2 separate regions of the Homo sapiens genome follow, and region 1 is linked to region 2. A link means that fine-mapping ties the variant in region 2 to the expression of a gene that starts in the linked region. Tissue or cell type: whole blood. Region 2 holds a variant in brackets; the other region holds the start of a gene. All regions are shown on one strand. Distances are between the middles of the regions.

Evidence for each region. PIP is the estimated chance that this variant, and not a neighbour inherited with it, causes the effect.
Region 1: it holds the start of FGFR4, and the variant in region 2 is fine-mapped to the expression of FGFR4 in whole blood (INTERVAL, PIP above 0.99). The same link has a PIP of 0.9 or more in prefrontal cortex.

What each region holds. Positions count from the first base shown.
Region 1 is chr5:177,082,468-177,090,467 of GRCh38, forward strand. FGFR4 (fibroblast growth factor receptor 4) reads left to right here and starts at 4,448. Exons shown (of 18, transcript NM_213647.3): 1 at 4,448-4,610; 2 at 7,083-7,226; 3 at 7,923-8,000. The coding sequence starts at 7,136. RefSeq lists silencers at 4,059-4,108, 4,359-4,818, a promoter at 4,329-4,548 and an enhancer at 4,514-4,964.
Region 2 is chr5:177,031,402-177,039,661 of GRCh38, forward strand. All of the region lies in intron 1 of ZNF346 (zinc finger protein 346), which reads left to right. Among named protein-coding and RNA genes, the nearest start is that of ZNF346, 13 kb to the left of the region's middle. RefSeq lists a silencer at 7,289-7,338. The variant G/GT (reference allele first, on the strand shown) is at 4,558.

The sequences.
Region 1 (8,000 bases), 51 kb after region 2:
TAGATGACCTCAAATAAGTAATTCCATCTCCCTGAGCTTGTTTCTTCACCTACAAATCAGAGCTAAGGATTCCTATGCCATTTGGCTTGGTGGAAGAATTAAAGGATATAACCCATGTACAACACCCAGCATGATGCCTGGCATGTAACGGGAGCTGAAGAGTCACGAGCTCAGGAACAGGAACACGTTCATTTCCCCCAACACTCCTAGGAAGAAAGAAGCTGGAGCAGCCGGGAGCCGTTGCTCACGCCTGTAATGCCAGCACTTTGGGAGGCCGAGACGGGTGGATCACCTGAGGTCAGGAGATCGAGACCAGCCTGGCCAACATGGTGAAACCCCGTCTCTACAAAAATACAAAAATTAGCTGGGTGTGGTGGCAGGCGCCTGTAGTCCCGGCTACTAGGAAGGCTGAGGCAGGAGAGGCAGGAGAATTGCTTGAGCCTGGGAGGCGGAGGTTGCAGTGAGCCAAGATCACGCCACTGCACTCCAGCCTGGGCAATAGAGCGAGGCTCCATCTCCACAAAAAAAAAAAAAAAAAAAGGAAGAAGAGGAAGCTGGAGCATGACGGCTTTCTGGGTGGGGAAACTGAGGCAGAGGCAGGTTAACAGCAGGATCTTAGGGTGACAGGCTCTTGCCTCTGCTAAGCGAGAGAGAGAGAGAGAGAGAGTGTGTGTGTGTGTGTGTGTGTGTGTCTGAATGTATTTTTTTTTTTTTTTGAGACAGGGTCTTGCTCTGTTTCCCAGGCTAGAGTGCAGTGCGTGATCTTGGTTCAATGCAACATCTGCCTCCCAGGTTCAAGTGATTCTCCTGCCTCAGCCACCCCAGTAGCTGGGATTACAAGCGTGTGCCACCATGCCTGGCCAATTTTTGTATTTTTAGTAGAGATGGGGTTTTACCATGTTGGCCAGGGTGGTCTCGAACTCCTGACCTCAAGTGATCCGCCCACCTCAGACTCCCAAAGTGCTGGGATTACAGGAGTGAGCCACTGTGCCCAGTCGTGTCTGAATGTCTTTGAGAAAGAGACTGCAAATGTGACTGGTGAAAGATTGCGTGTCAGCAAGAGAGTGAGACAGTGTGAAAGGCTTAGGTGCTCTCCCTGACTGGCTCAGCTTATCTCCCAGGCTGTAACTGATTACTTATCTGTCTGTCCCCACTACAATGTCAGCAGCCCCTTGAAGGGTAGAAGTAGGGTCCAGGCCAGGTGAGGTGGCTCACATCTGTAATCCCAGCATTTGAGGAGGCTGACATGGGCAGATAACTTGAGGTCAGGAGTTTGAGACTAGCCTGGTCAATATGGTGAAACCTTGTCTCTACTAAAAATATAAAAATTAGCCAGGTGTAGTAGTGCACATTTGTAATCCCAGCTACTCAGGAGCCTGAGGCAGGAGAATCACTTGAACCCAGGAGGCAGAGCTTGCAGTGAACTAAGATCACACCACTGCACTCCAGCCTGGACAACAGAGCAAGACACTGTCTCCCAAAGAAAAGAAAAGAAAAAGAGTCCAATTCGGGGCTTTATCCCCAGGATTTAAAACAGTGGATGCCACATAATGAACCTTCAATAAATAATCATTCAGATGAATGAGTGAATGAGTGAATGACTTTGTGAGGGAGCATCAGCCTCTGTGGAGGGTCAGTGTGAAAGGTTATGAGTGCGGGGAGAGGAGGCAGACAAGGGATATGGGGAACATATCCTAGGGACATCAGAGGGTTGCAAATCTGAGGGATTTGCGCATCTCAGGAGACAAGGAGGTTGCAAGACCTGAGCTATGAAAACTTTTAGTTTGTCTTTGGCTCTGGTAAACTCAGGAAATGCCCGGGAAGGTGAATGAAAGCCATGTGGGGTCCAGCTCCAGCTGGCGGCTCACCCTGTCTCCCCCCACAACCACATTCACAAGGGGAGCCAGCAGAGGGCCAGAGGCAGGGAGCTGAACCCCTCCAGCAGTCCGGGAGGTCTGGCAAGGTACCCTCTGGGCAGGCAGCTCCCAGGGCCAGGAGCCTCATCTGTCCTGGGAGCTCCAGCAAGGCAGGACTCTAGAGAAGGGAACCAGGACAAATTGTTTTTAAAAGATAACCAATTAAAAAAAAATTTATAATATACATATATATGTGTGGGTGTGTCTGTGTGTATGTATATACACACAGACACACAGACACACACAGACACACACACACACACACACACACACATATATATATATATATATATTTTTTTTTTTTTTTGGAGACAAAGTCTCACTCTGTCACCCAGTCTGGAGTGCAATGGCACGATCTCGGCTCACTGCAACCTCCACCTCCCGGGTTCAAGCAATTCTCTGCCTCAGCCTCCCTAGTAGCTGAGATTACAGGCACATGCCACCATGCCTGGCTAATTTTTTTGTATTTTTAGTAGAGCTGGGGTTTCACCATCTTGCCAGGTTGGTCTTGAACTCCTGACCTCGTGATCCACCCACCTAAGCCTCCCAAAGTGCTGAGATTACAGGCGTGAGCCACCGTGCCCAGCCTAATATATATTTTTAATAGAGACGAGATCTCACTATGTTGCCCAGGCTGGCCTCGAACTCCTGAGTTCAAGCGATCCTCCCGATTCAGCCTCCCACAGTGCTGGGATTATAGGCATGAGCCACCATGCCTGGCCTCAATTATTTTCTGATTTATCTTTGGGAGGAGACCATTCTTTCGCTTAAGAAGAAAAAGAAAAAAACAATTTTAAGTCTCTTTAATGGGCCTTACAGTTATGCAAAGATATGCCACTATCCCTTTGGGAGTGAGGGTGGAAAGAACTAGACTTGCCTGCGTAACAATGAGAAAGGAAGTTGCTTCTTAAGACAGGGTCTACACTAGCTAGAGGGGACAACCAGGACCTGAGCCTCAGACAGGGTCTCGCTCCATAGCCTGTTGCCCAGGCTACAGTGCAGTGGAGCGATCACGGCTCACTGCTGCCTCGACTTCCTGGGCTCAAGCAATCCTCTGGCCTCAGCCTCCCAAGTAGCTGGGACCACAGGTGCACCCAGCCCATTTCCCTTCCTCTCAAGGTGCCTTAAGAGAAGGAGAAGGCTTGAGATTCAGGTGAGGGATGGGCAGAGATCAGAGGCTGCCTGGCCTCCTGGTTTGGCCACAGTCTAGATGCTCAGGAGAGAAGTGCTTACAGGTGAGGCAAACATGAGCCAGGTGGGCACGGAGCTATCTGGGAGCACCTACTGTATGCCAGACACTTGAACTCTAATGGTGAGGTCTGAGGACACAGTTCCTCTACTGAAAAATAGAGACAGGGCAACTATGTTGCCAGGGCTGGCCTCACACTCCTGAATTCAAGCTGTCCTCCTACCTCAGTCTCCTAGTAACTAGAACTACAGGCACCCGTCATTGTGCCCGGCCATTCCACAGCTATTTACATAATTAACTGTTCAGTTACAATTCTGGCAAGCGTGCTGAAGAAATAACAGGTCCTAAATAATTACAGCTAGTATTACAAAGCAAGCGCTGCATGCCAGGCTTACACATACTGCTAACATGTCTACTTTTTGCAACAACCTCTTGTGGGTGAGACTATCATTTGCCTGTTTTACTGAAAGGACAGTGAAGACTGAGGCCTTGTGTGATGGTGCTGAGAGCTGGGCCTATGACGTCCAGCCCTGTAGTCTGTGCTCTGAACCACTTCACCCTGTTTCTTTCTCCATCCTCACAGTAGAGACGTCATCTAAGAGGAGCTTGCAAGTCCAGAGGGCTTCCTGAAGGAAGTGAGCTGAGAATAATATGAAATTAACCAGACCAAGGGCCATTCCAGGAAGAGAGAATGGTACGTGAAACTGCCCAGGAGTAGCAGGGTGGGAGCCAGGAGGCGTGGGTCATGGCAATCTATGTATAAAGAGCTATGGGAATCTATAGGAAAATTTAAGGGAGTGGCTGACACAGTCAGATTTGTGTTGTAAGTATCACTCCGCAGGTTGCGCAGGGAACAAATGAGGGAGCAGAAGGAAGGGGTTCTCCTATCCGCTGCACGGCACTGCGCAGAAGACAGGGGAGCCAGGCATTCCCTGAAGGGTGAAAAGCAAGGAGTAGAGCTGGGTAGTAGACTAGAATTTAGGAGCCTGGCCTGGGGCCTGGGTGGGGCGAAAGAGGCGGAGCCTGAATGGGGTGTGTATAGGGGGGTTGCGTGTAGGGGTGTGTGTATAGGCTGGGGCGGGGTCCCGGGAGTGGGCTGACTGGGTCGGGGGCGGGGCTCTCCAGGTGGGCGGGGATCTTGGCCACCCCTGGCCACACCTCTCTCCGGCTCGAGCTGGTCTAGGCGGGGCGGGCCCGAGGGGGTGTGGCAGGAGGTGGGCGGGCCCGGGTGGGGGGGGGGGGGGCGTGGAAGGAGGGGCGGGCCCGAGCAGGAGGGGGCGGGCCCGAGGGGCGGGGTGGGACAGGAGGTGGGCCGCTCGCGGCCACGCCGCCGTCGCGGGTACATTCCTCGCTCCCGGCCGAGGAGCGCTCGGGCTGTCTGCGGACCCTGCCGCGTGCAGGGGTCGCGGCCGGCTGGAGCTGGGAGTGAGGCGGCGGAGGAGCCAGGTGAGGAGGAGCCAGGTGAGCAGGACCCTGTGCTGGGCGCGGAGTCACGCAGGCTCGAGGTGAGCCGGAACCCTTGTGGGCCCGGGCTGCGCTCCCAGCCGCCAGGGGGCGAGAGGCGGCGGGGCTACGGGGACTGCCCCTCCCGGCGCAGGGGACCTGGGCGTCCGCCGGGCGGCAGGGGGTGGAGGGGGCGGTAAATCAGTAACCCGCAGTGCACACAGGGCCTTTTGTCCCGCTCCGTCCAAAGAGCACCCCGGCCGCGGAGCTGGTTACTCATTGCCCACCGAGGCGGGGGCAGGCTGGCCCTGTGCAGCTACCCTCGGGACCCATTGATTCGCACCTCCCCCCAGGCTGGCCCGGCAAGGGTGGGGGAGGACAAGCGCGCTTGTCCCTGCGGCTGTCTTCGCGCCGGCGGCAGAGATGAGGGACCTGAGGCCCCGAAAAGTTCAGTCACTTAGTGCCCGGGGGCCTCCAGCGCGAGTGCGGGAGGCTGAAGGAGAACCCAGGACTGTCTGATGCCTAAGGCAGGCCCTCCATTCCCACGTGGGGGGTGGTCGGTCAGCGGTCAGCAGCCATGGGTGACTCGACTAAGGACTCTGATATCAGGGCAGCCTGGGGTAGGAATAAACTCCCCGGGCCTCCCCACCCACTCCCAGCCCAAGCTGTGTACCCAAAGAGCTGCCCTCCCTGCCAAGCCGAGCTTGGTAGGGAGTTTTACCAAGGAGGATCCGACTGGATTCGAGAGTTGAGGTGGGCCAGAGACAGCAGTATCTGAGTCAGGTAGAGAAGAGCAATGAGGGGCACAGAGGGATGGGCAAGAGAGCACATGTGCCCAGTTTTGAAAGCCAATGGCTTCAGCGCTCCTGAAGGGGCAGACGGTGTGACCAAAGAGATAGGCAGCGGCAGAGAGGGAGCCCTAGGATGTTGAGCTGGATCCTGCTGGGCACAGGTAGCCATTAAGGGCTTGCAAGCTGGGGGGCATGACATGGCAGACTTGCAGGTTTTTTTGTTTGTTTTTTTATTTTATTTTATTTTTTTATTTTGTTTTTTTTGAGACGGAGTCTCACTCTGTCGCCCAGGCTGGAGTGCAGTGGCGCGATCTCGGCTCACTGCAAGCTCCGCCTCCCGGGTTCGCGCCATTCTCCTGCCTCAGCCTCCCGAGTAGCTGGGACTACAGGCGCCCGCCACCGCGCCCGGCTAATTTTTTGTATTTTTAGTAGAGACGGGGTTTCACCGTGTTAGCCAGGATGTTCTCGATCTCCTGACCTCGTGATCCGCCCACCTCGGCCTCCCAAAGTGCTGGGATTACAGGTGTGAACCATCGCGCCCAGCCGACTTGTAGTTTTTTAAAACTCTGCTGGAAGATGAAGGTTGAAGAGCCGAGGGAGAGGATGTTTCCAGAGGCCCATGCAAGAGATGGCCATGACCTGCCTTGAGAAGGGGCAGGGGAAGCCAGATGGACTGGAAGTGGAGTGGCAGTGACCAAGGAGGAGGAGGTGTGATAGGCTTCCCACGCAGGGTAGATCCAGAGACACCAGTGCCACCCATAGGCCCCTAGGACTGCAGTGGTCACCGATTCCTTTGTCCCAGCTGAGACTCAGTTCTGAGTGTTCTATTTTGGGGAACAGAGGCGTCCTTGGTAGCATTTGGAAGAGGATAGCCAGCTGGGGTGTGTGTACATCACAGCCTGACAGTAACAGCATCCGAACCAGAGGTGACTGGCTAAGGGCAGACCCAGGGCAACAGGTTAACCGTTCTAGGGCCGGGCACAGGGAGGAGAACATTCCAACACTCTGCGTGCCGACGCACGTTCTCTCTTTTATCCTCAAAACAGTCCTATGAGGATAGTAAGCCAGAGAGAGACAGAGACAAGGAATTACAAGTTGGTGAGAGTCAGGATTTGAACTTGGCTCTGGCAGATGGAAAATTAGGGTCTGTATTCTTTACAAAACCGTGTGTGCCTCAGATGGAGTTGGTGCATAACAAGCAGAGGTATCCAGGGTCGCGGTCCTGCTTGCCACGGAAGGGGCCGCCTTGTCAGTTGTGACCACCCAGCCCTGGAAATGTCAGTAATGCTGTAAGGAGTGGGGATCGGATCAGATGCCATCCAGATGCTGAAGTTTGACCTTGTGTCATTTTTCACTTTCTTTTTTGGCTCTTCTGCAATCAATTCATTTATTTAGCAAAAAAGAAATTATGTGTGCCGAGAGCATGCAGAAGATATGTCTCCGTTCTCTGCTTCCCTCCAAAAAAGAATCCCAAAACTGCTTTCTGTGAACGTGTGCCAGGGTCCCAGCAGGACTCAGGGAGAGCAGGAAGCCCAGCCCAGACCCCTTGCACAACCTACCGTGGGGAGGCCTTAGGCTCTGGCTACTACAGAGCTGGTTCCAGTCTGCACTGCCACAGCCTGGCCAGGGACTTGGACACATCTGCTGGCCACTTCCTGTCTCAGTTTCCTTATCTGCAAAATAAGGGAAAAGCCCCCACAAAGGTGCACGTGTAGCAGGAGCTCTTTTCCCTCCCTATTTTAGGAAGGCAGTTGGTGGGAAGTCCAGCTTGGGTCCCTGAGAGCTGTGAGAAGGAGATGCGGCTGCTGCTGGCCCTGTTGGGGGTCCTGCTGAGTGTGCCTGGGCCTCCAGTCTTGTCCCTGGAGGCCTCTGAGGAAGTGGAGCTTGGTATGGCTTCTGAGGTGGGAGAGGGTGGCAGGGGTGGGAAGAGTGGGCACCAGGAGGGGGCTGCTGGGCTGAGCAAAGCTGGAAAGGATCCTTGCCCAGGCCCTGAGAAGGTGGCGGCAGGGCAGGGCTCAACCACTGAGACTCAGTCAGTGCCTGGCTTCCAGCAAGCATTCATCTATCACTGTGTCTGCGAGAGAGGACTGGCCTTGCAGGGCGCAGGGCCCTAAGCTGGGCTGCAGAGCTGGTGGTGAGCTCCTTACCTGGGTGTGTGTGCGTGTGTGTGTGTGTTCTGTGCACTGGGTGTGTGACCTAGGAGGTCCAGGCAGCATGTGTGGTATAAGCATTATGAGGGTGATATGCCCCGGTGCAGCATGACCCTGTATGTGGCACCAACAGCATGTGCCTTGTGTGTGTGTGTGTCCGTATGTGTGTGTGTGTATGCGTGTGTGTGTGTGTGTGTGTCTTGGCCACTGTCGTGTGCACTAAATGCTGTGTGTGTGACATGCCCCAAGAGTGTGGCATTTGCCCTGGGTGTGGCATCCGCAGCATGTGGCTGTGTGGGTGTCAAGGAGTGGTGGCTCCTTCAGCATGCGTTGCAAAGTGCTTGTGCCCTGCATGTGCGGTGTGTTCTTTGTACACAGGAGGCTGCCTCAGATGGGGCTGCGGGGTCTGCTGACCTCTGCCCTCTGCCCACAGAGCCCTGCCTGGCTCCCAGCCTGGAGCAGCAAGAGCAGGAGCTGACAGTAGCCCTTGGGCAGCCTGTGCGTCTGTGCT
Region 2 (8,260 bases):
CACCACTTTGAATATGTCATTCCAGTGCCTTCTGGCCTTAATTGTTTTCAAATAAGAAGTTGTCATTAATTGAATTATTTCACTGTACATGATGAGTCATTTTTCTCTCTCTCTCACCGCTTTCAGGATTTTCTGTCTTTGCCTTTCAACAGTTTGTGATGTGTCTAGGTGTAGCTCTCTTCACATTTTTCCTAGTTTGGGTTCCTTGAGATTTTGGAATGTGTAGATTAATGTTTTTCATCAAATATGGGAGGTTTTTGGACATTTTCTTCAAATATTTTTTTCTACTCTCTCTCTCTTCTCTCTTCTTCTGAGGCTCTCCTTACACATATGTTAGTATGCTTGAAGTTTTTCCATAATCTCTGAAGCTTTGTTCATTATTCTTCAATGTTATTTCTCTTTGTTCTTCAGATCAGCTATTTCTATTGCTGTATCTTCAAGTTCACTGATTCTTCTGCCATTTTGAACTTGCTGTTGAGCTCCTCCAGCAAATTTATTGTATTATAATTTCAACTCCAGAATTTCCATTTGTTTGTTTTATTAGTAGCAGATCATCAGTACCCTTACATTTGCTTTCTTCATGCCTTTTCTTTTTTCTTTTTTTTTTTTTTTTTTTTTTTTTTGAGATGGATTTTCACTCTTGTTGCCCAGGAGTGCAATGGCACAATCTCAGCTCACTGCAACCTCTGCCTCCAGATCCAAGCAATTCTCCTGCCTCAGCCTCCCGAGTAACTGGGATTATAGGTATGCGCCACCACACCTGGCTAATTTTTTGTGTTTTTAGTACAGATGGAGTTTCACTATGTTGGTCAGGCTGGTTTTGACCTCCTGACCTCAGGTAATCCACCCACCTTGGCCTCCTAAAGTGCTGGGATTACAGGCGTGAGCCACTGCACCCAGCCTTTTTTTGTTTTTGTTTTTGTTTTTAGACAGAGTCTTGCTCTGTCACCAGGCTAGAGTGCAGTGGCGCAGTCTTGGCATGCTGGGATTACAAGCATGAGCCACTGCACGCAGCTTTTTTTTTTTGAGACAGAGTTTCGCCCTTGTCACCCAGGCTGGAGTGCAATGGCACAATCTCAGTTCACTGCAACCTCCACCTCCTGGGTTCAAGCGATTCTCCTGCCTCAGCCTGCTGAGTTAGCTGGGATTACCAGCCCTCTACCACACCTGGCTAATTTTTGCACTTTTTAATAGAGATGGGGTTTTACCACGTTGGCCAGCCTGGTCTCAAACTCCTGACCTCAGGTGATCCGCCCGCCTCGGCCTCCCAAAATGCTGACATTACAGGTGTGAGCCACCATGCCCGGCCTCTTCATGCCCTTTTCATTGGATAGAAATTTGAGCTTCTTGAGACCATCAGCAGTATGGATTTGGCCAGGCATGGTGGCCCACACCTGTAGTCCCAGCTGCTTGAGAGGCTGATGCAGAAGGATCACTTGAGGCCAGGAGTCTGAATTCAGCCTAGGCAACATAATGAGACTCTGACTCTAAAAAATTAAATTAAAAACAAAAACACAGTATGGACTCACAAAATGGAAGTACCAGTGCTAAGTAGACTTAATAGGACCGTCTTGTTCATTCTTTTAGGCCATACTGCCCATTAAAATACTACATTGTCTAACCATTCTCATCCATGGGTAGATTATACCCAACCTCCCTTTCCTATGATTGTTTGAGGGGTTTTTGCTTTTGAGATGGGGGATCTTGCTCTGTCACCCAGCTGAAGTGCAGTGGCGCAATTATGGCTCACCAGAGCCTCGAACTGCTAGACTCAAGTGATTTCCCCCATGTCAGCTTCCCTAGTAACCAGCACTACAGGCGTGTGCCACCACACCTGGATAATTTTTTAATTTTTTTTGTAAAGATGAGGTCTCACTTTGCTGCCTGTGTTGGTCTCAAACTCCTGGCATCAAGCAATCCTCTAGCCTCAGTCTCCCAGAGTGTCAGATTACAGGCGTGGGCCACTGACCCAGCCCTAGGATCTTTTATTTTCTGCTTTCTGACTATAGCTATACCTAAAAACCCTTTGCCTCCTAATAAGCTGGGTAGTAAATAGGTTTCATCTTCCTAAGGATCACCTTCAGTCAGTTGACGAATTTTTTTGTTTTGTTTTGTTTTGTTTTTGTTTTTGTTTTGTTTTGAGATGGAGTCTCACTCTGTAGCCCAGGCTGGAGTGCAGTGGCATGATCTCTGCTCACTGCAAGCTCCGCCTCCTGGGTTCACGCCGTTCTCCTGCCTCAGCCTCCTGAGTGGCTGGGACTACAGGCACCCGCCACCACACATGGCTAATTTTTTGTATTTTTAGTAGAGATGGGGTTTCACCATGTTAGCCAGGATGGTCTCGATCTCCTGACCTCGTGATCCACCCACCTCGACCTTCCAAAGTGCTAGGATTACAGGCGTGAGCCACCGCACCTGGCCCAGTTGATGAATTTATACAGAGCTCAATTGTAGATTCTAAGGTCACATGTAGGCCTAAGGAATAGCAAGTCATTTTTGAGACAGGGTCTCACTCCCTCACCAAGGCTGGAGCATAGCAGTGCAATCCTGGCTCATTGTAGCCTCGAGCTCCCAAACTCAGGTGATCCTCCCACGTCAGCCACTTGAGTAGCAGGGATAACAAGTGTGCACCACCATACCCAGCTAATTTTTTGTAGTTTTTTATAGAGATGGGGTTTCACCATGTTGTCTAAGCTGGTCTCGAACTCCTGGCTCAAATGATCCTCCCACCTCAGCCTCCTGAATAGCTGGGACTACAAGTGCATGCAGGCTACCACACCTGGCTTAAATTTCCTTTCTTTCTTTTTTTTTTTTTTAATTTTGAGACAAGGTCTTGCAGTGTCACCCAGGATGGAGGCTGAAGTGCAGTGGTGTGATCACAGCTCACTTCACTGCAGCCTTGACCTCCTGGGCTCAAGTTCAAACGATCCTCCCACCTCAGCCTACCAAGTAGCTGGGACTGTAGGTGTGCACCACGACACTCAGCTAATCTTTTTTGGTTTTTTGTAAAGACAGGGTCCCACTATGTTGCCCAGGCTGGTTCTTGAACTCCTGGGCTCAAGCGGTCCTTCCACCTCAGCCTCCCAAAGTGCTGGGATTATAGGCATGAACCATCACACCCAACCCTTAAATTTGTTAAGTTTATTAATTATCTTGCTGTCCCACAAAAGTTCTCTGTGTTCCTACTTCATCGACCCTGTGAAAAGCAGCCCTGTGCTTCATACTCTAGATGGCATCTCTCAGCCTCTGCCCCATACATCTTTTACTTGGCTATCATGTGGATATAAATTAAATCCTGTGAATACGTAACATCTCATAGGATGTAGAATGCAGAAATGCAGTAAAGACCATACTTCTGTGCCTCTTGGCTATTGTTGCTGTCAAAAAAGGTCATGGAACTACATCAGTTTTCCAGCATCCGTTGTCCAGCTTCATAGGTTGAGAGAGAAGTTGTTACAGTCAAAGCATCTTGCTTCCAGCAGAGCTGTGAAGGAGCCTCAGAGACTGTAGGTCACCTATTGGAACATGTATGCATTATTCCTGGAGATGTTTCTGGAGGCCCAACCTAGTATCATACTTTCAGCCTCTCTAGTGATTTTCTTTTTCTTTTCTTTTCTTTTCTTTTTTTTTTTTGAGATGGAGTCTTACTCTGTCGCCCAGGCTCAAGTGTAGTGGCACGATCTTGGCTCACTGCAACCTCCACCTCCTGGGTTCAAGTGATTCTTGTGCCTCAGCCTCCCAAGTAGCTGGGATTATAGGCACATAGCACCATGCCTGCCTAATTTTTTTATTTTTGGTGGAGACGGGGGTTTGCCATGTTGGCGAGGCTGGTCTCAAACTCCTGGCCTCAAGCAATCTACCTGCCTTGGCCTTCCCAAGTGTTGGGATTACAGGCTGAGCCACCACGCCCTGCCTCTCCAGTGAATGAATGAAAAGCACCTCATTTTCCATATCAAATCTTTTGCACCCTGGAGAGATAGTTGGTAGTTGGATTAAAGTTGTGTGCAGATATCATGGCAAAAAGGATGTGTAGTCAGGCTGCCATCTCAGAATTTTGACAATTTTTTTTTTTTTTTGAGACAGAGTTTTACTCCTGTTGCCCAGGCTGGAGTGCAATGGCGCAATCTTGGCTGACTGCAGCCTCCGCCTCCCGGGTTCAAGCAGTTCTCCTGTCTCAGCCTCCCGAGTAACTGGAATTACAAGTGCCTTACCATCACACCCGGCTAATTGACTTTTTTTTTTTTTTTTTTTTTTGAGACAGTTTCACTGTGTCGCGCAGGCTGGAGTGCAGTGGCATGATCTCGGCTCACTGCAACCTCCGCCTCCTGGGTTCAATCGATTCTCCTGCCTCAGCCTCCCAAGTAGCTGGGACACAGGCACCTGCCACCATGCCCTGGGGCTAAACTTTTTTGTATTTTTAGTAGAGACAGGGTTTCACTATGTTGGCCAGGCTGGTCTTGAACTCCTGGCCTCGTGATCCGCCCGCCTCTGCCTCCCAAAGTGCTGGTATTACAGGCGTGAGCTACCGCACCCGGCCTAATTGACAATTTTATCCAA[G/GT]TTTTTTTTTTTTTTCCCTCTGTGGGCCTTAGCTTCCTCCAACCTCATAAACCTCTCAGTTTTTGTGGGCCAGGAATTTGGGAAAGGCTTGGCTGGATAGTTCTGATTCAGGGTCTCTTATGCAGTTGCAGTCAGATGGTGGCTCAAGTTGAAACAGCAGGGAAATGGAGCATCTGGGAGCTAGAGCTGAAACAACAGCGGGGTGGAGCCTCTGGGGGCTGGCCAGACATCTCTCTTTTCATGTGGTGTCAGGAACTCTCCATGTGGTCTTGATGCATGAAATAGTCTGGGGTTTCTCACAGCTTGGTGGCCTCAGAGCAGTCAGACTGCTTACATGGTGGGCAAAGGCTTTAAAAGCAAACATTCCCAATTTGGTTCCCTTTTATAATTTCTACTTTAATGTGTTTATGTTGCTTAGTGGTCAGATTAACTAGGGATTCAACAAGATCTTGTTCTAAACACCTGGAGCCTATAAGCCCTTGATTTTGTATTGTTGGATCTGTGTGTTGGTAGGGAAGCATAATCAAAGTTCAAGTCATTTTGAGATCTACCCTTCCCACGAGGTCCTTTTGCATCTCTTTTGTGTGTGTACGCAGCCTCAGGGTGGCCATGAGTATGTGGCTAACTTGGGCCCTCTCAGGTCTCCGCTGTCACACAGTCTCAGCCAGGAACACACTTGCCCCAACCATGAGCACACCTCCGGCCAGTGAAGCCTTTCACTCTTCCTGCTTACTGCCTTGGAGATCATCATTTCCATCAACAATATTGCTACATGTAAAGGAAATCAAGTGATTTCCTTCCTTCTGTATGGAAGCTATTTGTTTTCATGGCTAGCACCTTCTTGCCAGAGTTTCTACACCGATTGCAGGAAGGGCTGAGAGCAGCCTCACCTGAGCCTGGGAAATTGAGGCTACAGTGAGCTGACATTATGCCACTGCACTCCAGTGTGGGCACTGCAGCCTGGGAAACCCTGAGGTTTTGTTTGTTTGTTTGTTTTTCCCCATCTGGGGAAAAAAAAAAGCCGCTGATTCCTACTGTTCTTACCTGAAGTTCAGCAGTTTTGCAAGCACAAAATTGCTCTCGGATTGTTAAGTCCCTTTGGTTAACTTCCAGAGTGCTGAAGTGGTTGGTTTTGTCAGTTTTGTCCGGTTTTGTCAGTTTTGTCCTGTTTTATTGTTGCTTCTGCAGGAGATCTCCTCACTCTGCCTTGGCCAGAAGTTCCACCCTGTACTCACTTTGTTTTATATTCAACTTCGCTTCCTCTGCCTGACTTCAAAATTGGGAGGGTCCCAAGGCTCAGTCTCTGAACCTCTTTCCTTCTTCATCTACGCTAGGCAATCTCTTCCAGCCCCACAGTGTTCAATATGATTGATATACCAATGATTCCCCATTTATATCTCCAGCTCTGACCTCCCCCTTGAGCTTCAAGTGACTGACAGATCTGAATCTCCAACTCATCTCCACCTATATATCTGATAGACTACTCACACTCACATAACGAAAAGTCTTTAATTTTTCCTCCAAGGCTATCTTCCCCTAGTTCTAATCTATTCACTTGTTCAAGTTCAAAACCTAGGAGTTATCCTTGACTCCTTTCCTTCCTTCACTCCCACCCCCACATCCAGTCTAAGAAATCAGATGTCAAACCTATTGCCGGAACATAATTCCAAATTCATTCACTTTTCTCCATCTCCACTGACAACCTGCCTAGTCCAAGCTTCCATCATCTATTCTCTGAAGACTACAGCAGCCTTCTCCTTGTTCTTTCTGCTTCCATTCTTGTCCCCATACAGTCTGTTGACAACAACTGTCAGAGTAATCTTTTCAAGGGCAAACCAGATCTTGTCACCTCTCATTACACTAACAATAAAATCCGTAGTTCATACTGTGGCTTATGGAGCCTTATATTCATTCAACATCATCTACTAGGCCTCATGCTGTCTCTCCAACTTAATTTCCTACCATTCTTCTCTCATTCACCATATTCCAGGCATAGTGGGCTTCTCTCCATTCTTTGAACATGGAATATGCCAAACTCATCCCTGCCTCACAGACTTAATACTGTTTCAGGTTGGAACACTCTTTTCCTGTAAGCCTTGTGGCTGACACTTCCCCATGATGATTTTTTTTTTTTTTTTTAAATTTTCAGAGTCAAAGTCTTTCTCTGTTGCCTAGGCTGGAGTGCAGTGGCACATTCACGGCTCACTGAAGCTTCAAACTTCTAGGCTCAAGGGATTCTCCCACCTCAGCCTCCTGAATAGCTAAGACTACAGGCATGCGCCACCATGCCCAACTACGTTTTTTTTTTTTGTGTGTGTGTGTTTTTTAATTTTTGTAGAGATGTGGCTCTCCCTGTGTTGCCCAGGACAGTCTGAAACTTCTGGGCTGAAGCAATCCTCTTGCCTCAGCCTGTTGAGTTTCTGGGATTATAGGTGTGAGCCACCACAACCGGCCCTGTGATGGTCTTTACTAACTCTCCTGCCCCGTCATTCTCTACCCCGTACTCTGCTTGTTTTCATAGCATTTCTAATTCTCTGTCATTGTCTTGCTTATTTTTTACTTTATACCCCATCTTCTTTGTTGGTATGGCCCCCAGCACTAAGTGCAGTGTTGACACAAAGCACGTATTATAAATATATTTGTGTGGACTATGTGAATGTACTCTCTAAGGCCAGAGAGTGCATTCCAGCAGAGAGGTACATTTATTTAGCAGGTGCTTACCTGCCCTTGCTGTGGGTTTGGGAGTCTGATTCTGAATATGCTTGAAACCTCATCTCTTGAACAAAACAAAATCCACAATCTCCAGGTGAGGAAGTGATGACTGAACTCTGACCCCTGGGTATTACCTTCCCCATGTGGGTTTCTTATTGTGAGAAGCCTCTGACCCTCTTTTTTTTCTTCTTTTTTCTTCTTCTTCTTGTGTGTGTGTGTGTGTGTGTGTGTGTGTGTGTGTGTGTCCGAGTTTTGCTGTTGCTCAGGCTGGAGTGCAATGGCACAATCTCGGCTCACTGCAACCTCTGCCTCCCAGGTTCAAGTGATTGTCCTGCCTCTGTCTCCCAAGTAGCAGGGATTACAGGCATGCTTCACCACACCCGGCTAGTTTTGTATTTTTAGTAGAGATGGGGTTTTACCATGTTGGCCAGGCTGGTCTCAAACTCCTGACCTCAGATGATCCACCCACCTTGGCCTCCCAAAGTGCTAAGATTACAGGCATTACCAATCGTGCCTGGCCACCTCTGACCCTCTTTTAAAAGTTCTGGGCCAATTTTGTTTATAGAGTCATTTCTCTTGGTTTTTCAGAGCATAGCTAAGACAGGCAAGGTCTTTCACAAAAATTTACCATTTAAAAGAAAAATGCAGAAATAAAAAGAGATCATTAGGGGCAGAAATACAGCCCTTCTGCCTAAAAGGGCTGACATAGGTAAGCTTTAGATTTTGTGGATTAAGGAGAGACATCTTAAAAGCTCCCCACCAAGAACCTCTTCCAGGGCATCGACTTTTTTTTTTTTAAGACAGGGGCTTGCTCTGTTATCCAGGCTGGAGTACAGTGGCACTAACATGGCTTGCCATAGCCTTGACCTCCTGAGCTCAAGCAATCCTTCTGTCTCTGTCTCAGCCTTAGCCTCCCATGAAGCTGGAACCACAGGCATGTGCCACCACCCCCGGCTAGTTTTTGGTTTGTTGGTGTGTTTGTTTCTATGTA